Homo sapiens: one gene and its partners. The main gene of each other region encodes a partner of the protein of the gene in region 3 in a complex. Each region holds a gene or a part of one and is shown on either strand. Other genes may lie near its edges. A codon is read from its position in the direction of its gene.

Region 1 (7,985 bases), on a different chromosome or scaffold from region 3:
ATGACATCTCTTATCCCTAAAATTATAAATAAGAAAACTAATTTTTCATGAATTCTACAAAATAACAAAATGGGACACAAAATTGAGCAAAAAATTTTCTGACGGGAATGTCAAAAACACCTGGCAAACACTCTTCTCACAAGCTGGCATAGGCCTATAAATCTCCCATTTGTTTGTTTAAAATCTGTATCATTTCATTTTTCAGAGCCTTACTTGAAGACAAGCCATTACCTTTTTGAACTCATCCAATCCTAAGCATTTTCTAGAATAATCAAGTAAAAAAAATTCTACCACAAAAATAAAAAAGTCTCAGAGGTGGGAAGAGCTTTGTCACATTGTCTGATTTAGCCCTTGCTAAATCAGCCCTTGTTTAGTTAACAAATATTGAAACTGATGACTTATGGGCAGTGGGCCATCCTTGACCTTTGGGGATATATACAAAGTAATAAGACAACTCTGTCCCCTAAAAGGAGTTTACAGTTTACTAATGTTTTCCCAAAGTACCTGAGTACTTAGGGAGAAGGTATGAATGTAAAAATGAAGATTCCTAAGCTTAGCCTCAAACTTACTGATTCAGAAATTCTAGGGATTAAACCCAGAAATCTGCTCTTTAAAAAGCATCTTGGGTAATTCTTGTGCACAACATTTGAGAACCACCACTCTGGTAGGTCTGAGAGATGTGCACAAGTATGAGTTAGGGAAATGCTGAATAGAAGACTCATCTTTTAGGGACATAAAAAAATTGATCAGCACCTTCCCTCATTAATGCCAGATACAAACTGGAAAAAAAAGAAAAGTCATCTCTTAGCCAAAACCAGACATTCTTCTAAATCATATTCACCACTAAGTTGGATTGTGAGTTATCAATTTTATAACAGAAACACTTAGTGCAGAAACCCAAAATTTCTAGTGACCTACCATTCTCCCTAAAATGCCTAATTCACTGCGTGCATGGGCTCACACCTGTAATCCCAGCACTTTGGGAAGCCGAGGCTGGCAGATCACTTGAGGTCAGGAGTTGGAGACCAGCCTGGCCAACATGGTGAAACCCTGTCTCTACTAAAAATACAAAAAAAAGTAGCTGGGCATGGGCGCTCACCTGTAATTCCAGCTACTCGCGAGGCTGAGGCATGAGAATCTCTTGAACCTGGGAGGCGGAGGTTCCTGTGAGCCAAGATTGCGCCACTGCACTCCAGCCTGGGCAACAGAGTGAGATTCCGTCTCAAAAATAATAATAATAATAATAATAATAATAATAATAATAATAATAAAATGACTAATTCACTGGATATTTAGTTTCATTTAGGTTATGAACCACATATTTTAGCCTATTTTCTTCCCGTGAGAGTAGTATTCATAAGCAATTTTCATAGTTTTTTTCCCTTTCACAGAAATACAAAAAAACTACTAAACATAAAAAAATGTTGAATTTAGAAACATTTGAGGTATCTGGGCTTTAAGAAAGTAAGCTCTTAACAGAATTAACTGGCACATACAGATTCTGCACAAGACCAAACTCTGTACACAGAAAAATCACCTGGGGAGTGGCTATCAATGCAAATGGCTGAAGAATCTGAGTTGGTAAAAGTAAGATGGATAACTGAATTTTTAACAAGCACCCCAGCTAATTCTAATGTAAATTGTTTTGAGAAAACATTCCAGAATTTTCAAGATTTCAAGATTCCAAGCTCATGACATCCCAACCTGTCTTCATGTCTAAATCAATATATTAAACACAGTAGACTGCCAATGCATACATATTTAAATAATTAAAGTAATTTTATATTTAATTAAAGTATAAAAGGGAACAAACAGGGGAAGTCAGTTTACCTAATCAGAGCCCACATTCTGTAAGTCAGAGCTGGGGAATCTTATTGATATAATGAATTGCCCTCCAGATCCAGGAGCCACATGCAGTAAAGGGCTTTGCCGTTGTTTCTTTTAGAGAGTATATAAAATACTCTGATTACCTACTTATAAAATTAAAAATATACTGAATGATGTATGTGTGTAGCAAAGGGAATGGCTGAGGTTGGAGGGAGAGTTATTCTCTGGACATCAACAATAATCTGAGAAATAAAATTCTGAGGATCATATAAAATAAAACCAAATAGAATCTGTCCTTGGTCTAAGCATCTCCCACTGCTGATGTTAGGATAGTAATTTCCTCATTCCCACAGGAATTAATTGTGAACAATTAAACACGTGGTATTATCTAATTACTAATAATTCACAGAGAACTGAGAGATTCTTATCCTCACGTCCTTTGGGGGAACCTGAATATGAGTGGGTTCTGGGGTTGTATGCTTTCTGTAAGTCTGGGAAGCACACTTTATATGTGCATATAGCATGCAGTTTCTCAGATAGTCCACAAACATGTGAAAGGAGCACTGGCTTACTACTTACAGGTAGTAGTAAGGAGAATAACTGTTCGTGACCCTAAACAGTGGCTCAGCTTCTTCAGCTATAAAATGGGTACTCAGGTTGATCTGTATTCATGGTCCAGGTTCTTTGCACTCAGCCATGATGCTTCCCACGCCATGTGCTTAACTGAGGTTTATGTGGGAGGATCACATGAGACAATTTTTGTAAAAGTGCTCTGTAAGCTGTAAAGCACTATACAGATGAAGCGGATTATTATTAGTCTTTTACGAAGCCCAGCGATAAAGATGCAAAGTGACCCAGAAAAAGAAAACTGAGTAGACAAACCTGAAATACAACATCTATAGCCCCTAGAACAGTTACCCTGTACATGGTAGGTAGGTGCTTAATAAGTAGAGTGAGTAAAGAAAAACGCAAAACAGGTTTGTGCCTCCATCATACTAGGTCTGATACCAAGAAGAAATAAATATACCTAAGGTCAATGATAGTTTCATTCAACCATACAAACCCAAATAATCCAAGAGCCTAAGATTTTAAATTAAAAATTACTTCAAAGAAAGAGCATGGAAACGTGAAATGTGACCCGGAATCCGCAATTAAATCGGTATATTCTTACCTCTTCAGTCTTTCCAACGCAGTCTTGCAGGGATACAGGACCTGGGTGAGGGTGTGGAGTGCTTCCCTGCACCTGGTAGATCTACATAACTGTTCCTAGCAACCTCTTGAGGAAATAATACATTCTATAGAATGTTGGGTACCTAAGCTCTCTGTTTTGGATTTGAAAGGCTGCGTTTTAGTGATTTTTAAGCCAAACAAGATTTATCCCATAACAGCCCCCCAAAAACACGCACAGAAAAGAAGAATGAGAGGGGCGGGTAGGTAGAGAAGCAGTTATTCACTTTATAAAACAATTCTCTATAGGATTCTTTTGTCAGTTTCCTAGACTATGTAAAATGTGATTCAAATTAAAATATTTAAATCACATACCCACATCTTGACATGGGCAGCTATTTGTAAAATGAGGCAAACCCACACTGGGAAATACCAAATTAAAAAAAAATCAGGGAAAAAATATTTTCTTCTGGGTGGCCCTAAACTGCTTTCTTTTTCCCCATTGCAAATGTATTTTTATGCTGGGTTACATTTCCAAAACAGGAGTGTTTTTTTTCTATCGTTGAAATGAAACAAACAAGTTTGCTTTCAGAGCTACAGAAATGCCCAACTGTTAGGAAAAAAAAAACAAAAAACCGTTTTCCACTGGCCGCTTGCCTCTCTTATCCCCATGCAACCTTGCCTATTGGCCCCTTTCCCTAGGAGAGCCCCTGGGGCTGTCTGATGGAACTGATTGTAAAACTATTTTGTGCAGTAAAAAAGTCGTTTCTTCAAAATCTGAGACCACCCAGAACATGCCCAATCTTTGGCAAATATCGACTGGTTTCCTCAGTATTTGACTAGCTGTACACCGAGTAACTGTCCCGGGTTTCTGGGTCTTTATCTGAGAAGAAATGAGGGGGAAATGTTTCAGAAGATGAAAAAAGGAAGAAAACCTCTCATCCAAAATCTGTTCAAAATTCATTTTGTGCGTTTCGAAGGGGGAGGACAGGAGAATTTAGTGCAAAGACGGCCTCCACCAAACGAAACCGTCCAACATTTGCAAAAGCTTTTAAAATAAACTGCTCAGGGATCAGGGGTTTGCTGGAAACTCCCGGTCGCTTGAAGCCCTGTCCCTCCACTCCGGGCACCCTGGCCTCCCCAGGGTGGGCACCCCTCCTGCACGGAGAGCGGCGGCTGGGATCTCGGAGCAGGGTCGGCTATGGCCCTGGAGGCAGCGGCTCACAGAGAAAAAGCTCTGGCTTTTCTCCGCCCGCTGCGTTCCTCTTCTTACAGCCTCGGGTGTCACATATTAGGTGCTCAATAAATGTGGACATAGGAAACGAAAAGTCCGAATCTGTCCTTACGCCCCCAAGGCGAATTCTGGGGCGCGCGGGTTTATTCCGACCCACTACCACATCGCGTTTCCTGAGGTAACCCGGCCTCGGCTCTGCGGCCCCAGCGGCTGGAGAGCCACGGAGAAGGCGGGCTACGGGCGACAAGATGGAGAGCCGGCCCGAGAGGGACAGAGGCCGCGCTGGCAGCGAGCTGGGGGGCCCACCTGACCGTCCTGCGGGCAGCCCGGCCCCGCGCTCCCATTGACAAGGAGGTCCGCGCCGCCGGCGCGTGGGGCGGGGGCGGAGGCGGGGTGGGGCGCCCCGGCGCGCGCCCGGCCCCACTCCCCGCCCCCGCCAGTCCCGCAAGCACCCACCCCGGGGGAGCCGCGGGCCGGGAGGGCGCTGGGGGGAGGGGCAGGCCGCTCCGCGAGCGCGTGTGCGCGCCGCCGCCGGCTGACGCGAACTCCGGCGCGCGCCTCCCCCGCCCCGCGCCCTCCCCGTCCCGGGGGCCCGGCGCGCGGCCCTGCTGACGTCAGCTGGCGGCCCGCGGAGCCGGGTGCGCAGAGCCGCTGGCGCACTCGCGCGCTGCGCTGGCCTCCTCCCCGCCCCGGGCCCAGGCGCGCGCGCGCTTGTTCGCTCTCCCATTTTTTTTTTCCCCTCCCTCCCTGCCTCTCTCTCTCTCCCTCTCCCTCGAGCTCCCGGCTGGCTGCGGCTCCCTGGCGCTCTCCCTCTCTCTCCGGTAGGCTCACCGAGCGATGCGAGCTCTGGGAGACAGCGACGCCGCCTCCCGCTAGAGACCTGCCCCTCGGCCCGGCCCCCTGCCCAACCCTGCCCAGCGCGCGGGGGTCGGCGAAGGCGCCGCGGACGCACCGACGGCTGAAGAGCGGCGATGCACATGCACTAGCAGCACCCCCTAACTCACTCCCTCCACATCCCGCGCCGCCGCCGCCGCCTCCTCCACCTCCTCCTCCGCCGCCGCCGCCTCCTCCTCCTCCGGCAGCCGCGGCAGCAGGACCCACCCTGCCCCCCACCCCACCCTCTGTCGGCTCCGGCTGCGGCTCCAGCCTCGACTATTATTTTATTTATTTTGGGTCGTGCACAAGCCTCAGTGCCTGCAGTCCGCGCCTCCTCGGCCCGCGGGCGCCTCCTCCCTTGGCTCCGGAGCCCCAGACCCCGGCCACCCTCGATTCGACAACCCCAGACCCCTGCCAGCTGCCGCGAGTCTCCGCTGCTGGAATCTTGTTAGCGGCTGTCTTTTTGGAGGGTTCTGGTTTCCCGACATTTTTGTTTCCAGCCCAGGAGAGGATATCGTGATTTTCCCCCCTTGAGCCCAGGCTCTGCTCTCTGGGGGGGTGGGGGGCGCTCCAAGCCGGGGAGCCGTGCCAGCCGAGTCGTGCGGGCTGTGGCAGGGAAGGGGCCACCATGGGATGTACTCTGAGCGCAGAGGAGAGAGCCGCCCTCGAGCGGAGCAAGGCGATTGAGAAAAACCTCAAAGAGGATGGCATCAGCGCCGCCAAAGACGTGAAATTACTCCTGCTCGGTAAGGACCGCCGCTGCTACCCCCATCCCCCGACCCCGGCCACTCCGCACCCCCTGCCACCAGCTCCCCCACCCCACTCGCGCCCGGGAGACCTGGTCCCCAAGTTGGCACCACCATGTGCCCAGGATCGCCCACCCCCTCGCATGCCTTAGTCCCCCCCTCCCCCTGTTCCCTTAAGCTGACACTCACCAGTTTTTCCCCACTGTCTGTGTCCCAACAGGGGCTGGAGAATCAGGAAAAAGCACCATTGTGAAGCAGATGAAGTAAGTCCCTGTGGCATTGGGATTCGTACTTTTATTAAGAATAATTTTTAAATCGTTTTTATTACATTGCTTACTCCACATTGCTCTCCAGGCCTGTTTTTTAATTCGTGCACACACACACACACACACACACACCCCTATATTTGACTCCCCTCCCCCACTCCCTACGTTGGTTCTGGGTCCTCCACCCTAACTCCTGGGTGGGTGTTTTTTGGGAGGGGGAAGGGGAGCGCCTGTAGTTGTATGAATGACAGTGTCCGCCATATTGATCAGAACATCACACTATTGGCATGATTATGATCATTACTCTTGCTTGTGGAATATTTTCTGTGTCTCACTGCCTCCATTTCTGTCTGTGTCTCTGTTTCATTCTGTCTCTATTTCTTTCTCCTCTTCCCTCCATACCTCCCTATCCCCCAAGGTCCGTAATCCCACTTCCCCCTGCTCTTTTCCTGGGGCAGTGATTTTGAACTTGGCTAACATGGAGGGGACCCAGCCCTAGACTGGGGTGGAGGATCAAGTGTCTGCTGTTCATGCGTTTGGTGCTGAATTGGAGGCTGTGGTTTCTACATCCCCTCGCACCCCCTCCCCCGCAAAAAAAGAGGGCCAGGGTTAGGGGAGGGGTCGTGTGCTAGGGGAAGGAGTGGGTTTCCAAACGTAGGTGACGGGCACAGTTTTATCCAAGGTAGAGGTGGAAGGGGGAGGGAAGCTGCCTGTGAGGCTGAATGTCCGCCCCTTGCTGCCCCCAGCTCCTCTCCTCCCCCACCCTCCCAGCATTGCTCTCCTGACACCCGCAGTTTTCGTTCGCTCCGTGGCCTTTATCAGTGTATTTATTTACACTCTGCATAGGCCGTGTTCCATGTAATCTACCCACAATGCGGATTTCAGGCCCCACTTGCCGCCGCCCCCTTCTGCCTTAGCTATCAGTTTCCCCTCCTAATTAACTGGGGGTGGATTTGAGTGATGGTTGAAAATTAAAACAAAATGGGATATTCCTTCCCTTCCACACTTTCTCAATAAGGAGCCTCGCCCCTCCTTTCCACTTGCAGGCTCGCTTCTTGCCCTATCCACTCGGCAGTTCCTGGTGATCCCACAGGCAGGTTTGCTTGGGGAGGGGGTGGCCGGCAGCGAAGGGGTGTGCGCCCTCCGGGCCTCCTGTTTCGGTTGGCCTGTCAGTTCGAGACGGAGGAGTTCGTTTAGACCGTTTAGCGAAGATTCCACGTCGCTTTGCTGTGACACCTTCGTGCACACACAGCTCCTAATTAGGGGTTGCTGTGCAGTAAACAAAAATGATTATTTTTCAACTTGACACAATAGCCGAAATAATTGCATCGCGTAGGGAAACAATGGAAAATAAAAACCCCTTTCGTGGGAAGGTGGGAGTGGGAGACGAAGCATGCTTGCGGTTTCAGAACCAAGATGCAAAAAATCTTGGATGTGTAACAGGCATGACAAGCGGGTTCTAGGCGGCGCCATGATGGTAGGGAGTAGCGACTCGGAGACAATTTTCCCATCTGCTTGACATGTTCTTATTTTTATTCGAGAGCTCCCTGGGGCTTTCTTCGCAGAGCCCCCCTTGGCTCGCCGCACCCTTCTGAGCCAGGGGTAATTTAGCTTGGGGCTTCTCTTGAGCTTGTGCAACCCAAATTGATGGGGAGGCGGGGCCTGGGGAATTGCCCTTTGCAACAAGGTGCATGTTGCATCTGTCTGGAGCCCTTGCAGATCTGTAAATGCAAGCCGCGCCACCCCTTTCTCCCGAGGGGGGACGTTTTAAAACTTCAGAAGTCTGTAATCAGCAGTGGCGGACTCGGAGCCCAGTAGAAGCCCCAGCCACCTGAGCTGGATGAGGTTTCAGGCGTTGCAAGTGGTGGA
Region 2 (10,608 bases), on a different chromosome or scaffold from region 3:
TCTTGGATCTGACAAAACAGAAAGAAAAATGCACTATAATTATGAGCACATGATGTGCCTGGAACTGTGTTATGAGTTACCTTACTTAACACAACACTTCTAATATCTCCAGTGTTGAAGAAGAAACTGAGGTTTACAAATTCCAAAGTAGAAAAAATTCCCTCCACCTGAATGGCCTGCACAGCTCTATAGGATCTGGTTCCTGCCTACCTTGCAGCCCTCGCCTCCCTGATCTCCTACCTCTCTCATCTCCACTTCAGTCAAACTAACCTTTGAGTTCCTTGATCAAGTCAACTTCCATTCCACCCTAGGGCTGTTGCCCTTGTATTCAACATTGAAAGGCACTGGAATCTTCTTCCTCCAAACATGGTTCCTTCTAGCCATCTGGTTCTCTGCTCAAACGTTGTCACCTCATTAGAGTAATCTTCATGAATGTTCAGTTGAAAGTACCTATCTTTCCCTCAGAGTAACTCCTTGTTGTGGCCACGAAGGTGCACCATTCAGATGACCCTTTAAGGGAGCATAGTTGGCTGATAGCCTCCAACTGCCCCATCTTTAGATCTATTGCAGTGTTCTCACTTAGGCCTGAGGCTCTCTCTTCCAAGGCTGCCCTGAGCCTGTGACTGAGTAAGATAGGGGTACTAGACCCAGCCCACTTCACCACTTCCGCCCAGTACGGGACTTCCCTAATGAACAATATCTACTCAGGACTGGGTTGTGGGACAGAGATCTCATCAGGTTGGCCAAGACTTTCTTCAAGCTGCACCATAACCTGTCCCAAACTCCCTCTTTCCTTCTCTCCTTGTCCAGGTGTCAGAGCTGCATCACATTTGAAGTGCTCCCCAGCTACTCCTGCTCCTACTCTCTCTTATCCTTCACAGAATCTTCTCCCAATCTCTTGTTTGTCTAATTCTGTCTTGACGTCTGCTTCTCAGAAGACCTGAACTGGTGCACTCTCTTGTAAAACACTGCTTCATTACTTTCATAGCATTTATAACTATTTTTATTTTATCCAATTAAATTGATCCACTTATGTATTTATTTAATATCTCCCTCCTACCACTGCCACCATCTCCTCGTCAATGTAATCTGTCTTATTCATCACCTTATTCCCAGTGCTAAGAACACCACCTGGCTTATAATAGGTCTTCAGTTAATATTGTTGAATAAATGAATTAATGGATTTAGAAAGCTAGATTTATACTTTAGATCCAGAGGCTCCTCTTTATTCAATTACTGCGGGTTTTACTGTTCTAGGTCTTGGACATAAAACAGTAAGCAAGAAAGACAAAGTCTCTGCTCTTTTGAATTTATATTCAAGGGAGGGAAGACAGGTAATAAACACATAATCACAAATATATATATGCTATGTGATAAGAGATATAAAGAAATTATAGTGTGTAATAAGGGAATAAAGAGTGGTTGTTGAGTAGTTAGGAAAGATATCTCTCTGATAAGATTACATTTGAACAGAGATTTGGATGAAATAAGGGAGTGAGTCAAGCAGATACCTGGCTCAAGAGTGTTCCAGGCAGGGGGAGCATAAATGCCAAGGCCAATGATGGAGTGTGTTTGGCAAGTTCAAACAGTCTGGAGGTCAGGGAGGCTGAACCAGACAACAAGGAGAATGGCAGAAAATACTATGGGGAGGCACATGGTTAAAAAAAAGGGTAAGTCCTTGTATGCCATCATAAGGATTTTAGATGAGATTTTCCTCTAAGTGAGATGGAAAGTGAATGGATAGTTCTCCCTGACATTTTAAAAGGATGCATCTGGCTGCTAGGTGGGAACAGTAAGCGATTAAGGTAAAAGTAGAGGGAGCAGAAAGCAGGTTATTTAATATTTGATAAATATCTCCAGTGTCTATCAGTAAAGATGGCGATATTTGGCCAAGTTCTGGTTATATTTGAAGACAAAGTTAGTAGGATTTCCTAACAGATTGAATAACTAAGGCTTGCAGGAAAGGAAAGAATCTAGGATGACTCCAAGTATTTGGCCTGAGCAAACAGAAATGTGGAGTTGTTGATTACCGTGTTTTCCTCTGTTCAAGCTCAGCTGAACAGGTATAGTCATACAGAGGCAGAGTAGATTTAACCAGATTTGAAGTTTTTCCTGTTGAATACAATGGTGGGAGTGTTTTGAGGATATTGCAAAGGAATAATTGTCCTGATGGAAGATGGGATATAAGTTGCATAAGGAGAGACATTAGCACATGCAGCACACGACAGAAAGAGAAAAGGCATGTGGTCGGTAGATGGAAGGTCTCTGTGGGACTGGAGAATTGATGGTAATAACGTAACAGAGGGTGAGATGAAAAGGTCTGAAGTGGTGGTCAGAAAGTAGGGTGGCCATATTTTTTCCTTTGTCCCATAACTGTATCAGTCTGTTCTTATGCTGCTAATAAAGACATACCCAAGACTGGGCAATTTATAAAGGAAAGAGGTTTAATTGACTCACAGTTCAGCATGGCTAGGGAGGCCTCACAATCATGGTGGAAGGCAAAGGAGGAGCAAAGTCACGTCTTACATGGCAGCAGGCAAGAAAGCTTATGCAGGAAAACTCCTACTTATAAAACCATTGGCTCTCATGAGACTTATTCACTACCAGGAGAACAGTATGGGGGAATTTGACCTCATGATTCAATTATCTCCACCTGGTCCCACCCTTGACATGTGGGGATTATTACAATTTAACCTGAGATTTAGTTGGGATCACAGTGAAACCATATCAATAGCAATCCTTTTTTCTCAGTTGAATAATATTTGAGAAGAGTTACAAGTGAAATGAAACAAATTCCAAACCTACCTCTCCAACTACCATCCCATGTGTCAACCCCTCTCCATGGTTAAGATTCTTGAAAAAGTCTCCTTATTCAGCTTCTGCATTCTCCATGTTTACTTCTTAATTCCATATGGTAAGTCTCCCATTCACAACATAGCAAGGCAAAATTTTGTTTGCTACAGGTTTCAACACCACCTTGAAGCCAGCTAAAAAAGTCTATTCCTTTTGATTTATGACATCTCTTCAGTCATATCTTCTCATTCCTACATTAAATATCCCCCAATTTCTTCAATTATTCCTTATGACATAGTTTGTAGCTACTTTGAAAACCTGAGGCTCTCAGCTGAATGTGTTCTAATTTGTCTTTTAACATATGTCTCTAACTCTCTTAACATATAATGTTCAGTATTATTCAGAAATAAGAAGAAATAAAGTACTGGTGGATGCTACATGGATGAACCCTGAAAACTTTATGCTAACTGAAGGCAGCCAGTCACAAAATACTGTACACTATATGATTCCTTTTATATAAAATGTCAGAATAGGCAAATCTAAAGAGACAGAAATTAGATTAGCGGTTGTCTAGATCTGGGGAAAGATAAAGGATTGGAGATGATGGCTAAGGAATGCAGAGCTTCTTTTTGTGGTGATGAAAATATTCTACAATTGATTGTAATCATGGTTGCACAACTCTGTGAATATACTGAAAGCCACTGAAGTGTACACTTTAAATAGGCAAATTCTATGGCATATGACTTATATCTCAAAAAAGCTTGAACCCGAGGGAAAAAAAAAAAAAAGCTGTTAAAAAACAAACATGATGTTGAAAAGAAAAAACAGTATTCTGAAGTAGAGTGCTTTAACCTCTATAATTTCAATTTCACTCTGTATAAAAGAGATAAATAAATAATATCTGCTTCATCTCCTTGACAAGGTTGAATCATATTTTGCAACATCATAATTACATAAGTTATTAGCTTGAGTGACTCTCACCACCTCACATTTGGATTACTAACACAATTCACTTGCTGGTACCCATTTGTTTTACATGTAGTGGTAAGAGGGTTTTTTTATTTCTTTGCTTTTTAACATCTAGTACCCAACTCAGGAAAGAATGTAAGGAGCACTTTGTACCCACTGTATCAAGTCCAACCCTTCACCTTAGCATTTAAAGCTGTCTTCCAACTTTGTCCCATACATCCCATCATTCTTCACACCAACTTTGTCCCACACATCCTATCATTCTTCACAACCAAACAACTTTCAGTTATAAAACCATTGTTTTCTCTTTCACGTATCTTGCATATTAACTGTTTAGCTGGTTATTCCCCTCAAACAAAATATACCCTATTATGGCCTGAATGTCTCCAAAGCCCTAACCCACAATACGATGGTATTTGGAGATGGAACCTTTGGGAGGTAATTAGATTTGGATGAGGTCTTGAGAGTGGGGCCTTTAAGACAGGGCCTTTATAAGAAGAGGAGAGACCAGACTGCTTTCAAGCTCTCTCTCTCTTGCTCTGCCATGTGAGGACGCAGCAAGAAAGAGGCCATCTGCAAGGCAGCAGCAGAACCCTCACTGAGGAACTGAATAAACTGGCACCTTAATCTTAGGTTTACCAGCTTCCAGAACGGTGAGAAATATATTCCTATTGTTTCAGCCACTCAGGCTATGGTATTTTTAGGGCAGCCTGAACTAATACATACTTCTTTAAACTCCCCACCAATATCCTGTTATCATTTCCTTCAAACGTTTTTTCAAAACTTTCTTATCTTAGAATTTCCCCCCATACTGATCAGTTCATTACTCTGCATTCTCTTAGGAATTGTGCTACATATAAATCTAATTTGCTGTTCTTATTCGTTTATGTATCACATTTTAACTCACCTATTTGACTAACTTCAAAGGATGGAAGTAATGTTACCTATTTGACAAACTTCTGTTACACATACTTCATTTCTCCGAAACACAAGTTTTGTAGTCATTTCTACCAATATTCAGCCAGCACTGCTTCTTCTTTTGCTGAAACTGTTGGTTCCACACTCTGGTCCGAACTTAATAGGAAAGACTCACCATAAAAGATAATTAAGAATGGCTAATACACAGTGTGTTGAAATTTGATTTCCTTAAGTTTAATTCCAGAGTTCTGATACACATTAGCATTTAGAGTGCCTAGAATTACAGTGTAGAAGGTGACTAAGTACATTTAAAGATTGTTCCTTTTTGTTGTTATATTACAAAAGATTATAGTTGAGGCAGATCTTGAAATTGCATCTCATCAGCCCAGCAGGTGGTGTGACTCCCATAGGAGAACAGGAAAGGACATGTCCCATAAGGAGGCAACTCAGTCTCTGCTAGCTCACAAGCGTGGTCTCAGTGACCTACTCGAAAGCTATTCTGCTTGTATCATCAGTTCAGCCTCACCTTGGAAAACTCAAGCCCAGTTTTCCCAAATGATTTTTAGAGAATAAGATTTCCAGATGAAAACCAGGGAGCATGTTCCAATTTTTAGTACATCAAGGACCATGTTTTTCCTTGCTACCAGCCCCATTTTCTAATCAGTTAACGCTTCCTGTGATATCTGTAGGGGAAAGGTGTAGTGCAACTGACAGGGAGAGATGAGATCTTAAGCCTCTGCTCATTCATTGGGTGCTGAGTAGCAATGCCTCCCGCGGGCCACAGGAACTTATCTCCGCCGATTGTTACAGCTGGAAGGATGGGGAGATAGCACCATAGATCCACTCCTCATTTTATGGGCAAAGAAGCTAAGGCCTGTAAAAATGGCATGCCCAATGGTACAGGAGTTACAAACACGGTCATAAATATTGGCTCCAAATTTGGCATGGAAGCTTATGTGCTGCTCTAGAGGAGATCTGCTACGATGTGGAGATTGGCTTGTGTGGGTGTGTTTTATTGCTCTTGTCATTTAAAAATACTTTTGATTATTTGTCTTCCATTTTTTTTAGGTTACGAGGAAATCCTTCAAAATGCGTTCTTGTGAAAAACGTGAGAGTGCAAGGAAAGAGGGAGGGATAGGAAGAAGGAAAGAGAAGCAAAAGGTAGGAAGAAAGTGACCTTGGTGCCCTTTTCTAGTCCCCTCCCCCGACTTTCCTGTTCTCCACTGTGCCCATCTCTGGTTTCACCAGGCTCCATTCCTTCCCCAGTTCCCTGTTTCTCACGGCCCTGAAACCAGCCGACAGGGATTTGCATTTTGAAAAACCTTGCGTGGCTGCCGGCGCTGGGCATGCTCAAACGCCCAGAACTGGCTTTTTTCGGCAACTTTGGCAGCTCTCCCACCCCCACCCGAAGGGGCAGGTACGCACAGCTCCCTCCGTGTGAGTAAACGGAAAGAAATTACCCCACTCCCGCCCAGGGCAGAAGGCCACAGCCCCGCGGGGCAGTGGCGCGCCCCGGGGACGCTGCCAGGGGGCGCCAGGCCCTCAGTGGTGGCGCGGCGCCGGGGTCCGGGGCCGGGGGGCGCTGTCCGAGGGCACGTGCGCGGGCGCGCGCTCTGGGAGTGGTCGCGGGGTGGTGGGAGGGGCGGGCAGGGGCGGGGCCGCGGCGGCGCGCGGAGGCCGAGCTCGGCTGGGCTTGGCGAGGCTGCGGCGCGGCCACCGGCGGGAGTGCAGCGGCCACTGTACCCAGAGATTCAAAACCCCAAACCCGGGACTTGGGGGCGCTGAGCCGGGCCGGGAAGCAGAGCCTGGTCGTGAGGAACAGCCGCCCGTTGCTGTCTGCCCCTTTGCGGACAGCGTCTCCCTCGACTCCGCTTAGGAAGTGGTGGGGGCGGCGTGGCCCCCGTCGGGAGGCGTTCGAACGCCCGCTAGGAGAGAGAAAGGATTCCCCTGTGCTTGGAGCCCGCACTCGGGCGCGGAGGGAGCGGCGGCAGGCTCTCGCTTTCGGCACCATGGGCTGCACGCTGAGCGCCGAGGACAAGGCGGCGGTGGAGCGGAGTAAGATGATCGACCGCAACCTCCGTGAGGACGGCGAGAAGGCGGCGCGCGAGGTCAAGCTGCTGCTGCTCGGTAAGGGCGGCCGGGTCGGGGCCCGGGGGTCGGCGGGGGACCGGGTGCGGCGCTGCGCGGCCCTCGGCGTTTGGAAACCCGGAGGGAAGGGGGAGGAAGCGCCCGAGGAGGCTTCTGAGCGGGAGCTGGGTCCGGCGGTGCGGAGGCAAGGCGGGTCCCCCTCTCCCGGTGTCTGGTCTCTCTCCGCCCCGGCGGGCGAGGACTCCCCGCGGCGGGGCGGGCGCGTCACTTCACTCGGATGCTTTCGTGCGACCCAGCAAAGAGCCCAGGCGCGAGTCCGAGGCGGCGGGTCGCGTGGAAACCCTTTGCTTTGAAGTTTAGCTCAGCCTTGTAAAGATGAAGGGGCATTCGCGGCTAGAAAATGAAAACACCCCCCCCCCCGCGCCACCAACCCCCTCCCGGAAAACCCTTCTTCGTGTGCGGTGTAGGTTGTGTTTCGACTGTGGTTTTCTCATGCCCAGAGTGCCACGTTTGGTGAAATCAGTGCACCTTTTGTGGGGCCTCTGAGATGGGGCTGAAGCGTCTTTCCTGTTAACTTCCTATGGCGACTCCTTAAGTGGTCAAGGAGCGCTGATTACATTCCCCCTGCGCTGAGAAAAGGCTGCGCTGGATGCTTGATTTTTCTTGCTGTGGGGGCATGGAAGCCACCCAAGTGGGGTTGGGAAGCTTTGCTTTAGTAGTAGGCAAGGCAGATACTCGAGTGGTGAAAACTGCTGTGAAAGAGCGAGAGGGTCACGCCAGACAACAGGGTTCTGTCTCCGCTGCCACCGTTTCTGATGAATGAGATTTGCCAGGTACACGCAAGGCTTTTATTTGTTCTTAGCACTGTTCTGTTCGTGAAACGCTACGTGGAGGTCTTTTCCAAATGTTTGACGGGGAAGAAAATAAAGAGTAAACCAGGGTTTTCACTGAGGGAAGCATTAGGAAAATCTTTACAGGTTAAGATTCGTGAGTTAGGGTTTTCTTTTGTTTGCATGTTTTCTTCTCACACTCTAGGTATTTAGATAGATGAAAAATTTCTCAGAATCTTCATTTGCATTTCCAAGGACTGCTTGTATTTTTATACCAGTTATAATAAAAAAGAAATGTTGCACAAACCTGTTTTCAGTAAGCTTCTGTTTCATTGGTTTAATGACTGCAGAAAAAATGGTGGGTTTTTTTTCTCCATTACTAGTAGGCTTGGGAGCAGCAAAGTTGGCATGACTAAAAGTAATAATGATCTGAGTCATTTTGCAAGTAAACTGTGAAATAACTTTGCATTTTAAAGACCTGGGTGGCTTTTTTCACCCTGTCGCCCCCAACATAAATCTTTCTCAGTTAATGTTGTTTGCCTAAGTTTTTACATTAATAAGAAATACTGTGTTTTGATGAGGTTAGTGTATGTACTTCTCTTGTGAATTGAATGTGAGATAGATATGAAATAAGAGGATTAAGAAGTTTTTTTCTTGCAGTTTTTGCTCTCCTGGTGTGATACGTTGTTTCAGTGTATTTCTGTGTGACTCTTAGTTTGAGCCAGCCATCCACCATGTTTAAAGCAATTGAAAAATGAATCATCTGGTGGTGGTGTTTTGTCCTTTAATTAGGTGACTGTTAGGGATGGACTAGAATAAAGGTCCCAGGAGTAGGCTTTTGCTTATGTTCAGAAGAGATCAGTGTGTCTTGATCTTAGCACGGTTGGCATTTGGGGCTGGGTAATTCTTTGTTCTCCAGGTTGTTTTTGTGCATTGTAGGATGTTCAGCAGCATCTTTGGCCTCCGCTCATTGGATGCTAGTAGCAGCCCCCTAACCTGTGAGCTCCAAAAGTGTTTCCACATATTGCTAGAAGTCCTCTGGGGGCAAAATACAGCGTTAGTTAAGGACCACTGTTCTAGATTAAGACTTAAATATAACTGAATGTATAATACAGAACCAGAAGTTGAATCTTGACAGTCATCATAAGTGAGTTCAGAGAAAGATGTAGCAGAGGCCTCATTTTCAGAAGAAATTATGGAATTCTTATTTCTTTTTCTTTTTTCTTTTTTTTTTTTTCTTTTCTTTTCTTTTTTTTTTTTTTTTTTTTTGAGACGGAGTCTTGCGCAGTCGCCCAGGCTGGAGTGCAGTGGCCCGATCTCGGCTCACTGCAACCTTCACCTCCTGGGTTCAAGCGATTCTCCAGCCTCAGCCTCCCGAGTACCCGGGACTACAGGTGCGTGCCACCATGCTCGGCTAATTTTGTATTTTTAGTAGAGACCGGGTTTCACCATGTTGGCCACGCTGGTCTCCAATTCCTGACCTCAGGTGATCCGCCCGCCTCAGCCTCCCGAAGTTCTGGGATTACAGGCGTGAGCCACCTTGCCCGGCCAGAATTCTTATTTCTCTAAACCAGTACTGGTACCATTGGAAATATTTCAGAATGATTTTTAGAAATCTTTAAGTGACTGAATTCTTTTGGCTGTCTTTTCTAGCTTTGGTCTTTTGCTTTTCCCTACCTCTCTCCTCTCTGGAAATCCTGGCTGTCCCTGCTGGCCCAGCACTCTCCTCTGTCTTATCCCCGTTCTAGTCTACCCTTTTGCCCAGAGTTCCATCACCCTAGTCCTGTAAACAGAATTCTGGCTTACTTATTCCAGAAATTCAATTCTTGGAATGTTCGAAAACATTGTTTTCCTAATTTGACTTTAGTAGTAAATTGTGACCTTTTGGTTCTTTTTTGAATCCTTAAAGCATATGTGTAAGCAGCTAAATGAAATAATTCCATGTAAAACACGGCAGTAGAATAAACTAGAAATGTAAAATCGTTTCTAGGTAACGTATAACCAGTGTCACAGCCATTTACATTAGATCGTGTTCATCTTCACTTATTCTGTTTTTCTCATCACATGATGTTTTTTAAATTTAAGGCATAAAATCTCTAAAGTACTTTTAAGACAGTCTGTTAAATATATTGCATTTTTTTCTTAAGGAATGTATTGTCATTTTAAACAGCTGGGCTGAGTAATTTAGATATGAGACTTGCACACTATTAGTAAAGATTTTGGCACTGTCTATATGATTTAAATCAGAGGTATTTCACTATACTGAGCAGTGAATTAGGCCTTAAAAAAAGAGGAGCTAGTCTAATCATTGACACTAAGGAAATCAGGCCAGAGTTTGGGTTGTTTGTCTTTTAGGTTTAGTTTTTATGCTTATTAGGATGATAATACTTAATAGAGAAACATTTTAAAGAAGTAAGTAATAATGAAAGTTTTTTATATAATAATGTCTAATTGTTGAGGAAATTATTTTTTATTGTTATATCTTTGAGAATGTTTTAATTTATCATCCTTTTAAGGGCAGTAAGATTAAGCTTATGCTTTATTTCGGTAGGTAACTATAGTATACTACTTGTACTTATGAAATATTATTTTATTATGTATTTGGAGGACATAAGATTTGACATACAAATAAATGATCATGAATTTATTTTCTGTTCCAAAGCTTTGAGCAGTATTCTCATTTATTCCACCTCACTGTCCTTCCTTCCGCTCCACTCCCCCTCATATACAAAATTCCACACCCTTGTCTCCTTCTTCAGCTTGGTTTAAATATTCCAGGTTTGGGGGAAAATGAGCTGAGGGATTGGATTTCTTCTGTTTGGTGGATATTTTTCTATTGCTGCCACCAGGCAGCCCTTTGGGATGCTGCATCATTAATCTTCACTCCTTTTGAACTTGCCCTGTGACTTCCCCTAGTTGAGAAATGTTGGCTATGCAGGGCTTTTGATTTTTCATTGCTTTGACTTTCTTAGAATTGGTTTAGGATCTTAGATGTCAAAAAGCCCATTTC
Region 3 (9,907 bases):
AGGAGTGGTGGCGTGCGCCTGTAATCCCAGCTATCTGGGAGGCTGAGGCAGAAGAATCACTGGAACCCGGGAGGTGGAGGCTACAGTGAGCCGAGATCGCTTCACTATACTCCAGCCTGGGCAACAAGAGCAAAACTCCATCTCAAAAATAAAATAAATAAAGTAAAATAAAATAAAATAGTGAAAAATAAACGTAGGTAGCTGCATTGTGGCACGTGGCCCACATATTGGGCAGTGCAGGTCCAGGGCCACTCTGGGGGTTCTAATTGCCCGGCACTATTCCATGTGCTTCCCAGGTGTTGGCTTAGTAATTTCCTAATCACAGTGCATATCTATGTGACAATAGCACAAAGGGCAGGGTACTATTATTCTTCCTAAATTCACATGCTCATTAGAGGAACAACCCTTGTCTGTTGCATGGAGAAAGGGGCAGAGAGCAGAAGCTGGGAGGAAACGGAGATTGGAACTGTCCAGGTGACGTGAGGCATGACGGTGGCTTAGACAAGGGTGCTGGCCGCAAGATGTGAACGATCGGATGAGAACAGGGTGAAGGAGAAGGCGCAGTACCTACAAGAACAGCCATAATCATTGCCAGGCTGTCCTGAGCCTTTCTCGTGTATTATCTCATTGAACCCACAAAGCAACCCTAGGAGACTTACTTGTTGCAACAGCAACACTCATTTTCCAGAAGAGAAAAATGAGGCTACAGAGAAATGAACAGACCTCTCCAAGTCTTCTCGGTTAGCAAGAACAGAGACAGGAGAGAAACTCCTGAGAGCTGAGCCCCAGAGCCCTCTCTCTCTTTTTTTTTTTTATGAGACGGAATCTCGCTCTGTCCCCAGGCTGGAGTGCAGTGGCGCGATCTCAGCTCACTGCAAGCTCCGCCTCCTGGATTCACACCATTTGCTAGCCTCAGCCTCCCGAGTAGCTGGGACTACAGGTGCCCGCCACCATGCCTGGCTAATTTTATTTTTAGTAGAGACAGGGTTTCACCGTGTTAGCCAGGATAGTCTTGATCTCCTGACCTCGTGATCCACCCACCTCAGCCTCCCAAAGTGCTGGGATTACAGGCATGAGCCACCGCGCCCAGCCCAGAGCCCTCTGTTTGAGTGGCTACCAGGCAGGCCTAAAGTGCATTGGGAGTGGGGGGGCATGCATTCTAGGCAGAAAGGAGAGAGGAAGGGCAGGTGGTGCACAGCAGAAACGAAAGGTCAGCATGGCTGGCAGGCGGCCAAGATAGGACTGGAAGGTCTGCAGATGCTGAGTTAAAGAATGTGGCTGGACGCCAGGCGCGGTGGCTCACGCCTATAATCCCAGCACTTTGGGAGGCTGAGGCGGGTGGATCACGAGGTCAGGAGTTCGAGACCAGCCTGGCCAACATGGTGAAATCCCGTCTCTACTAAAATAAAATACAAAAATTAGCCGTGTGTGGTGGCACGCACCTGTGATACCAGCTACTTGGGAGGCCGAGGCAGGAGAATCACCAGAATCCAGGAGGCAGAGGTGCAGTGAGCCAAGACTGCACCACTGCCCTCCAGGCTGGGTGACAGAGCGAGACTCTGTCTCAAAACAAAACAAAACAGACCAAATATTAGAAGCAAACTAAATTTCCATTGAAGGGGATGAAACCTCCTACTAGCATATTACTCAGCTGATAAAAGAAAGAAAGAAGCACCAGGCTGGGCAACATAGCAAGACCCCACCTCTACAAAAAATTTTAAATCTAGCTGGGTGTGGTGGCATGCACCTGTAGTCCCACCTACTCAGGAGGCTGAGGTGGAAGACCTCAGTAGACCCTGTCTAGAAAAAAGAAAAAAAGGAGGAGGAGGAGGAGGCAACTCCCTTGAACTACACGGGAATGAAGTACCTTCCTCAAGGTTAAGGGGAAATTAATGAATGCCTAATACAACGCCTGGTATGCAGTAAGCACTCAATAAATGCTAGTTAATAATACTATATGTTATTCATTTAAAAAAGCCAGATGTAGAGTACTGTACAAAACATACTGCCATTTATAAGGCTGGGAAAGGATAGAAATGTCACCCACATTGAGCGCCAACTGTATACCAGGCACTGCTACAAGAACTTTTCATGCATTCACTCAGTCAATTCTCTCAACTAGCCTATGATGTAGATTCTAGTATTATCTTCACCTTAAAGATAAGGAGAAGGAGGCTGGGTGCGATGGCTCACGCCTGTAATCCCAGCACTTTGGGAGGCCAAGGCGGGAAGATTGCTTGGGGCCAGGAGTTCAAGACCAGCCTGGCCAACACGGTGAAACCCCGTCTCTACTAAAAATACAAAAATTAGCCAGGCATGGTGGCAGGCACCTGTAGTCCCAGCTACCTGGGAGGCTGAGGCAGGAGAATCACTTGAACCCAGGAGGTGGAGGTTACAGTGAGCTGAGATCACACCACTGCACTCTAGCCTGGGCAACAGAGCAAGACACTGTCTCAAAAAACAAAAAGATAAGGAGACAGAAGCACGGAGAGGACAGATCTCCGCAACTATTTCATAGTAGAGACAGAAGCTGAGCTCGGTTTTGGGGTTCCCCGCATCACACTAGTCCTTACTTTGTTCCCTAAGCATCTGTGCTCTCAGGCATCTGTAAACTGTTTCTGGAAGGATCCACCACAAACTGGCATCCCATGGTTGCCCCAGGTAGGGTAGGAGGCAATGAAAAGGAGTCAGAGGGCCAGGTAGGGTGGCTCATACCTGTAATCCCAGCACTTTGGGAGACCAATGTGGGTGGATCACGTGAGGTCAGGAGTTCAAGACCAGCCTGGCCAACATGGTGAAACTCCGTCTCTACTAAAAAGACAAAAAATTAGCCAGGCGTGGTGGCGCATGCCTGTAATCCCACCTAGTCGGGAGGCTGAGGCAGGAGAATTGCTTGAAGCCGCGAGGCAGAGGTTGTGGTGAGCCAAGATCGTGCCATTGCACTCCAGCCTGGGCGACAAGAGTGAAACTCTGTCTCAAAATAAAAGGAAAGAAAAGGAGTCAGAGGCTCTGGGGTAGGCAGGGAGAATGAGTTTTTTTTTTTCTATGTTTGTTTTTTGAGATGGCCCTGTTGCCAGGCTGGAGTGCAGTAGAGCAATCTCGGCTCACTGCAACCTCTGCCTCATGGGTTCAAGCGATTGTCGTGCCTCAGCCTCTCAAGTGCTGGGACTACAGGCGCCCGCTTATATGCCCAGCTAATTTTTGTAGTTTTGGTAGAGACGGAGTTTCACCATGTTGGCCAGGATGGTCTCAATCTCCTGACCTTGTGATCCGCCCGCCTCAGTCTCCCAAAGTGCTGGGATTACACGCATGAGCCACCGCGCCTGGCCGAGAATGAGTTTTTACCAAGTATCATTTGGTACTTTGGAAAATGTTTTGGAAAGAAAAAAAAAAAGAAGAAGAAGAATCAGAGAGTCCCGTTTGCCCAAGTCGGATCTCAAGGGTGGAATGCAGGAATGAAGCAACATCAGACCCCTCCCTGGTCCATCCAAACCATCTTCCGTTTCCTCTTTGACACAGATGAAGCAAGGCAATGCCTGTGTTACAGCAGGTGCTGAATCGCAGCTCTGCTGGCTCAGTGCCCAGGCCTCCAGACGCAGGGATGACAGGGACCCTCATTTAGCCTGGGGTGCATTCCTTCTGACACTCACAGAATCCATGGCATAACCTGCTTCTGCCACCAACCATGGAGGGTCCCCATCCATCTCTGCTCCTGCCTGGGCCTCAGTTTCCCCATCTCTGTCATGCAGAACATCTCAAACGACCAGGCATAATGGCCTCATGCCAGTAATCCCAGAGCTTTGGGAGACCAAGGTGGGAGGATGGCTTGAGGCCAGGAATTTGAGACCAGCCCTGACAACATAGCAAGAACCCATCTCTACAAGAATAAAAATTTTAAAAATTAGCCGGACATAGTGGTGCATGCCTGTGGTCCCAGATACTCAGGAGGCTAAAGAGGGAGGATCACTTGAGCCCAAGAGTTCAAGACTGCAGTGAGCTATGATGGTGCCACTGCACTCCAGCCTGGGCAACAGTGCAAGACCCCAAGTCGAAAAAGAAAAGAACATCTATCTGCAAGAGCATCTGAGTAACTTGACCATTCCTCCAAACTGGTTCTTTCCAGCCTCCCAACATTTTCTCTGCCATTCCCACTGCCTGGAAGGCCTGTTCTAGATTTCTTCACTTGTGGAATTCTTTAAATAAAAAAAAAAATACAGACAGGGTCTCACTATGTTGGCCAGGCTGGTCTTGAACTCCTGGCCTCAAGCAATCCTCCCGCCTTGGCACAATCCCCAATGTGCTGGGATCACAGGTGTGACCCACTGCGCTCGGCTGCTTGTGGAATTCTTAGTCACCTTACTAGACCCAACTCAAGGGTCCCCTCCCCTGGGGAATCTTCTCGGGCCCCAGCCCCACGAGGTTGCTGTTGCTCCCACAATCTTGACAATCTTATTCCCATGGCCACATCCCAGCCCTGGAGTGTGAGAGCCTGGGATGCAGGAGAGAGGGAAGGTGGGAGGTGGAAGACAGGGAGAGAGAAGGAAAGGGAGAGACAGACAGAGTTGACGGCGAGAGTTGGGGAGAGAGAAGGACCCACTGGAGCAAAGATGGGAGGGACCCAGGACAAAGTTTCCTGCTCCCATTCCCCTTCGAGACTCACCATGTTCTGGTCTCCTGGGCTCCCCGAGGATCGAAGGTCCCTCCTGCCCAAGGGCTGTGGTTTTTAAAGCCCCAAGGGAAGATGCAGGGAGGAAATGACCGTCTTTCTCTCTGGGGCTCTCATTGGTCTGCACACTGGGCACTGAGGCCAGAGCTCCCTCTGCGGGGCACACACCCAGGGGACTCTAACCACCTCCTCCCAGGCAGAGAAGGGGGGCCGGCGCTCGGAAAACCGAGGAAGCTCCTGTGCAGGCTCGGCCCCTCTCCTGGCCTTGGTTTCCCTATTTGGGGCCATCTCTTCTCTCTCATTTTTTTTTTTTTTTTTTTGATAGAGTCTTGCTGTGTCGCCCAGGCTGCAGTGGAGTGGTGCAATCTCGGCTCTCTGTAACCTCTGCCTCCTGGGTTCAAGCACTTCTCCTGCCTCAGCCTCCCGAGTAGCTGGGATTACACGTGTGTGTCACCACCCCCGGCTAATTTTTTGTATTTTTAGTAAAGACGGGGTTTCGCCATGTTGGCCAGGCTGGACTCAAACTCCTGAGCTCAGGCAATCACCCACCTCAACCTCCCAAAGTGCTAGAATTACAAGTGTGAGCCACTGCGCCCGGCCTGGAGCCATCTATCTCTTTCCTCCTAAGACGCCAGCCTTCTGGGCAAAAGCTCAGGAATGCAGTTGGCTTAAACCCCTCCCTTGGGATTCAAGAAAGCAGAGACTGTAACCTCCACTCAGCCTCCCGGCCAGGCTGATTTGAGACCCAAAGAGGCTGAGCTAGTCTGCGGAGGTAGCCCAGCATTTAAGTATATTTTACTGTTAAATCTTCCTTCTAGGGCCAGGTGCAATGGCTCACACCTATAATCCCAGCACTTTGGGAGGCTGAGGCAAATGAATCACTTGAGGTCAGGAGTTCAAGACGAGTCTGGCCAACATGGTGAAACCCTGTCTCTACTAAAAATACAAAAATTACCCAGGTGTGGTGGCAGGTGCCTGTAATCCCAGCTACTTGGGAAGCTGAGGCAGGAGAATTGCTTAAACCTGGGAGGCAGAGGTTGCAGTGAGCCAAGATTGCGCCACTGCACTCCAGCCTGGGCAACAAAGCAAGACTCTGTCTCAAAAAAAAAAAACCATCGTCACCAGCCTGGCCAATATGGTGAAACCCCATCTCTACTAAAAATACAAAAATTAGCCAGGCGTGGTGGTGGGTGCCTGTAATCTCAGCTACTCAGAAGGCTGAGGCAGGAGAATTGCTGGAACCCAGGAGGCGGAGGTTGCAGTGAGCAGAGATTGCACCATTGCACTCCAGCCCAGGCTGACAACACCAAGACTCAATCTCAAAAAAAAAAAAAAGAAAAGAAAAAGAAAAGAAAAGAAAAAAATCATCCTTCTAGGGTTATAAAGTTGGCAATAGAAAATGGAGCTACCCTGTCCCCCAACTACACAAGCCACAACCATCTCCATCTATTATTGTTACATTGTAATATATAATGAAATAATTATACAATTCAACATAATGTAGAATCAGTGGAATCCCTGAGCTTGTTTTCCTGTAACGAGATGGTCCTATCTGGGGGTGATGGGATACAGTGACAGATCATCAGGCATTAGATTCTCATAAGGAGCTTGCAACCCAGATCCCTCACATGCGCTGTTCACAACAGGGTTCATGCTCTTTTTTTTTTTTTTTTTTTTTTTGAGATGGAGTCTCACTCTCTCACCCAGGCTAGAGTGCAGTGGCACGATCTCGGCACACTGCAACCTCCGCCTCCCAGGTTCAAGCGATTCTCCTGCCTCAGCCTCCCGAGTAGCTGGGACTACAGGTGCCTACCACTGCACCCGGCTAATTTTTGTATTTTTAGTAGAGACGTGGTTTCACCATCTTGGCCAGGCTGATCTCGAACTCCTGACCTCGTGATCCACCCGCCTCAGCCTCCCAAAATGCTGGGATTACAGGCTTGAGCCACTGCGCCCGGCCTGGGTTCACGCTCTTATGAGAATGTAATTCCGCCCCTGATCTGACAGATCAGGCGGTAATATGAGCGAAGGGGCGTGGCTATAAATACAGATGAAGCTTCACTTACTCACCTGCCACTCACCTCCTGCGATGCTGCATGGTTCCTAGCAGGCCATGGACTGGTACAGGTCTGCAGCCCAGGGCTGGGGGCTAAGATACTTCCTAGAGCCTGGGGCAAGGAAGGAGCCTAGATTACCTTCCCGAGGCTGCTGTAACCAATTAGCACAAACTGCGGGCTTAACACCAGGACCGGGCGCAGTGGCTCATGCCTGCAATCCCAGCACTTTGGGAGGCTGAGGCGGGCAGATCATTGAGGTCAAGAGTTCAAGACCAGCCTGGCCAACATGGCAAAACCCCATCTCTACTAAAAATACATAAATTACCTGGGTGTGGTGGTGCATGCCTGTAGTCCCAGCTACTCGGGAGGCTGAGGCACAAGAATTACTTGAACCCGGGAGGTGGAGGTTGCAGTGAGCCAAGATGGCACCACTGCACTCCAGCCTGGGCGACAAAGCAAGACTCCACCTCAAGGAAAAAAAAAGAAAAAAAAAGCCAGACAATTATTTTGGCATGGTTCTGCAGGCCAGAAGTCCAAAATCAAGATGTCACCACTCCCTCCAGAGGTTCCAGGGGAGAATCTGTTCCTTGCCTCTCCCACCTTCAGGTGGCTCCTGAAATTCCTTGGCTTGTGGTTGCACCACGCCCGTCCCTGCCTCTGTGGTCTCATCACCTCCTCCTCTACCGTATGTCTCAAATTTCTATCTTCCTCATATAAGGACTCTTGTGATTCCACTGAGCCCACCCAGACCCAATCCAGGATAATCGCTCCCCCATCTAAAGATCTTTAACTTCATCCTATCTGCAAAGTCCCTTTTGCCATGGAAGGTCACCTGTTCACAGGTTCAGGGGATTAAGATGTGGACATCATTGGGGATCATGATTCTATCTGCAACAGGGTCTGAGAAGCTAGAGAGTAAGTGTGTCCAGTGGTGGAGAGAAGCCTTGAATGCCGAGCTAAGGAGCCTGGACATGGCCTTTCCTTCGAAATAGATGCATGACCTGTCAACCTCTCACCACCTCGGCTCTGTTACCCTGATCCAAATCACTATCACCTTCTGCTTGGACCATTACAGCAGCCTCCTCTCTGGGATCTTCACTGCCCCCCCTCCGTAGTCTCATCTCCACCAGCAACCAGAGGGAGCCTATTAAAATCTAAGTCAGATCAAAGCACTCCTCTGCTCAGAATAGGGGGTTGCCTGATTTAGCACACACACCTACACAAACAAAAACACATTACAGACTGCCCAGTTAACTTTAAATTTCAGGGTTGGGCCTGGTGCTTCATACCTGTAATCCCAGGGCATGGGGACACCGAGGAAAGATCGCTTGAGGCCAGGAGTTTGAGAGCAGCCTGGGCAACATAGTGAGATCCCATCTCAACAAAATAAATTAAAAATTAGCTGGGCATGGTGGCACGTGCCTGTGGTCCCAGCTACCTGGGAGGCTGAGGCAGGAGGATCACTTCAGCCCAGGAGATCAAGACTGCAGTGAGTTAAGATCACAAAAATATTTTTTTTTTCACATTTTACCTGAGAATCTTGTATTTTATCTGGTAACCACAGCTCAGAGCCCTCCCTTGGAGCCTACGGCACAATGAGTGTGATTGTTATGATGATTACAGAAACACACTCAATTTTTTTTTCCCATGTCCTTCTGCGACTCTACAAAACACCACCCACAACTTTCTCCCACAGTATTTTTCTACAGCAAACTTCAATTTTTAAAAATCTGGTTTTCGGCCGGGTGCGGTCCTCATGCCTGTAATCCCAGCACTTTGGGAAGCCGAGGCAGGCAGATCACCAGTTCAAGAGATTGAGACTATCCTGGCTAACATGGTGAAACCCCGTCTCTACTAAAAATACAAAAATTAGCTGGGCGTGGTGGCGGGCACTTGTAGTCCCAGCTACTCAGGAGGCTGAGGCAGGAGAATTGCTTGAACACGGGAGGCAGAGGTTGCAGTGAGCCGAGATCGCGCCACTGCACTCCAGCCTGGGGACAGAGCAACATTCTGCCTCAAAAAAAAAAAAAAAAAAATCTGGTTTTCTTTTAATTGCAAAGGAAATGCATGCTCATTGTAAATATTTAAACAATCCAGAAATACACTCCTCCCCACTCTAAAAATAGAAAAAAGAAAAAGACACCAATGAAAAGTCCCATTCCTGTCACGCTTCTGAATTCAGCTGGGAATTCACCTAGACTTTTACAAAGGTGGAGTTTGTGTTTGGCCATGGACACGCGGGTACACGATGTTCAGCAAGTTTTAGTTCCGCTAATTGAAGCCATGTGCGCAGTCTGCGTTACTCACCCAGGATTTCCAAGGTCGATTTGTGGCGATTTGGAGCATTATAGGAATGCCGTGTTGTTCTAGCCCTGACCTCCAGGGGGCGCAGGAGCGGGGAGGTTCAGGAAGCCAGGTCACAGGAACTTGACTTTTAGGATTTTGGATGGAAGTTGCCTCCTCAGCCGTAAATCATGGGTTCTTAACATTTTTAGGCCCGGGACCCTTGATAAAGGTGTCCTTGATAAAACACCCCCTCAGAAGAAAAAGAATTTTTTTAACTTTTTATTTCGATGGAATGTCAAATGAAAAAAGTTGCAAGAATAGTAAAAGCGGCCGGGTGCGTTGGCTCCCGCCTGTAATCCCAGCACTTTGGGAAGCCGAGGAGGGAAGATCACTTGAGGTAAAGAGTTCGAGACCAGGCTGACCAACATTGTGAAACCCCGTCTTTAATAAAAATACAAAAAAGTAGCTGGGAATGGTGGCAGGCACCTGTAGTCCCAGCTACTTGGGAGGCTGAGGCAGGAGAATCACTTGAACTCAGGAGGAAGAGGTTGCAGTGAACCGAGATCATACCACTGCACTCCAGCCTGGGCGACAAAGTGAGACTCTGCCTCAAAAAAAAAAAAAAAGAAAGAAAGAAAAAGAAAGCAATTGGGGCCAGAAGCAATGGCTCATGCCTGTAATCCTAGCATTTTGGGAGGCCATGGTGGGAAGATCACTGGAGTCCAGGAGTTCCAGACCAGCCTAAGTAACATAGTGAAACCCCCATCTCTACAAAACACAAAAAATTATCCAGGTGTGGTGGAGCACACCTATAGTCCTAGCTACTTAGGAGGCAGAGGCAGGAGGATCACCTGAGCCCAGGAGGTCGAGGCTGCAGTGACCTATGATTGTGCCACTG

Evidence for each region.
Region 1: the proteins of C5AR1 (region 3) and GNAO1 are in contact, whole or in part, in a cryo-EM structure (PDB 8JZP), measured with the Homo sapiens proteins. Residues at the interface, in NP_001727.2 of Homo sapiens: Asn71, Phe75, Arg134, Leu137, Val138, Pro141, Ile142, Gln145, Ile225, Thr229, Arg233, Ala234, Thr235, Arg236, Ser237, Lys239, Thr240, Val243, Val244, Ala303, Gln305, Phe307; in NP_066268.1 of Homo sapiens: Ala31 (codon at 5,823), Lys32 (codon at 5,826), Lys193, Asn194, Leu195, Glu318, Tyr320, Phe336, Thr340, Asp341, Ile343, Ile344, Ala345, Asn347, Leu348, Arg349, Gly350, Cys351, Gly352, Leu353, Tyr354.
Region 2: the proteins of C5AR1 (region 3) and GNAI1 are in contact, whole or in part, in a cryo-EM structure (PDB 8HK5), measured with the Homo sapiens proteins. Residues at the interface, in NP_001727.2 of Homo sapiens: Asn71, Arg134, Leu137, Val138, Pro141, Ile142, Cys144, Gln145, Asn146, Phe147, Arg148, Ala150, Thr229, Arg232, Arg233, Ala234, Thr235, Arg236, Ser237, Lys239, Thr240, Val243, Val244, Ala303, Gln305; in NP_002060.4 of Homo sapiens: Arg24 (codon at 6,759), Ala31 (codon at 6,780), Arg32 (codon at 6,783), Glu33 (codon at 6,786), Val34 (codon at 6,789), Lys192, Asp193, Leu194, His195, Lys314, Glu318, Tyr320, Phe336, Thr340, Asp341, Ile343, Ile344, Lys345, Asn347, Leu348, Lys349, Asp350, Cys351, Gly352, Leu353, Phe354.

What each region holds. Positions count from the first base shown.
Region 1 is NC_000016.10:56,186,504-56,194,488, forward strand, and holds the start of GNAO1 (guanine nucleotide-binding protein G(o) subunit alpha), read left to right. Parts: upstream 1-4,985; 5' UTR 4,986-5,732; coding exon 5,733-5,850; intron 5,851-6,051; exon of another isoform or gene 6,052-6,070; coding exon 6,071-6,113; exon of another isoform or gene 6,114-7,985. UniProt on the Homo sapiens protein: Guanine nucleotide-binding proteins (G proteins) function as transducers downstream of G protein-coupled receptors (GPCRs) in numerous signaling cascades.
Region 2 is NC_000007.14:80,128,472-80,139,079, forward strand, and holds the start of GNAI1 (guanine nucleotide-binding protein G(i) subunit alpha-1), read left to right. Parts: upstream 1-6,359; 5' UTR 6,360-6,689; coding exon 6,690-6,807; intron 6,808-7,312; exon of another isoform or gene 7,313-7,601; intron 7,602-10,608. UniProt on the Homo sapiens protein: Guanine nucleotide-binding proteins (G proteins) function as transducers downstream of G protein-coupled receptors (GPCRs) in numerous signaling cascades.
Region 3 is NC_000019.10:47,304,652-47,314,558, reverse strand, and holds the start of C5AR1 (C5a anaphylatoxin chemotactic receptor 1), read right to left. Parts: upstream 4,699-9,907; 5' UTR 4,664-4,698; coding exon 4,661-4,663; intron 1-4,660.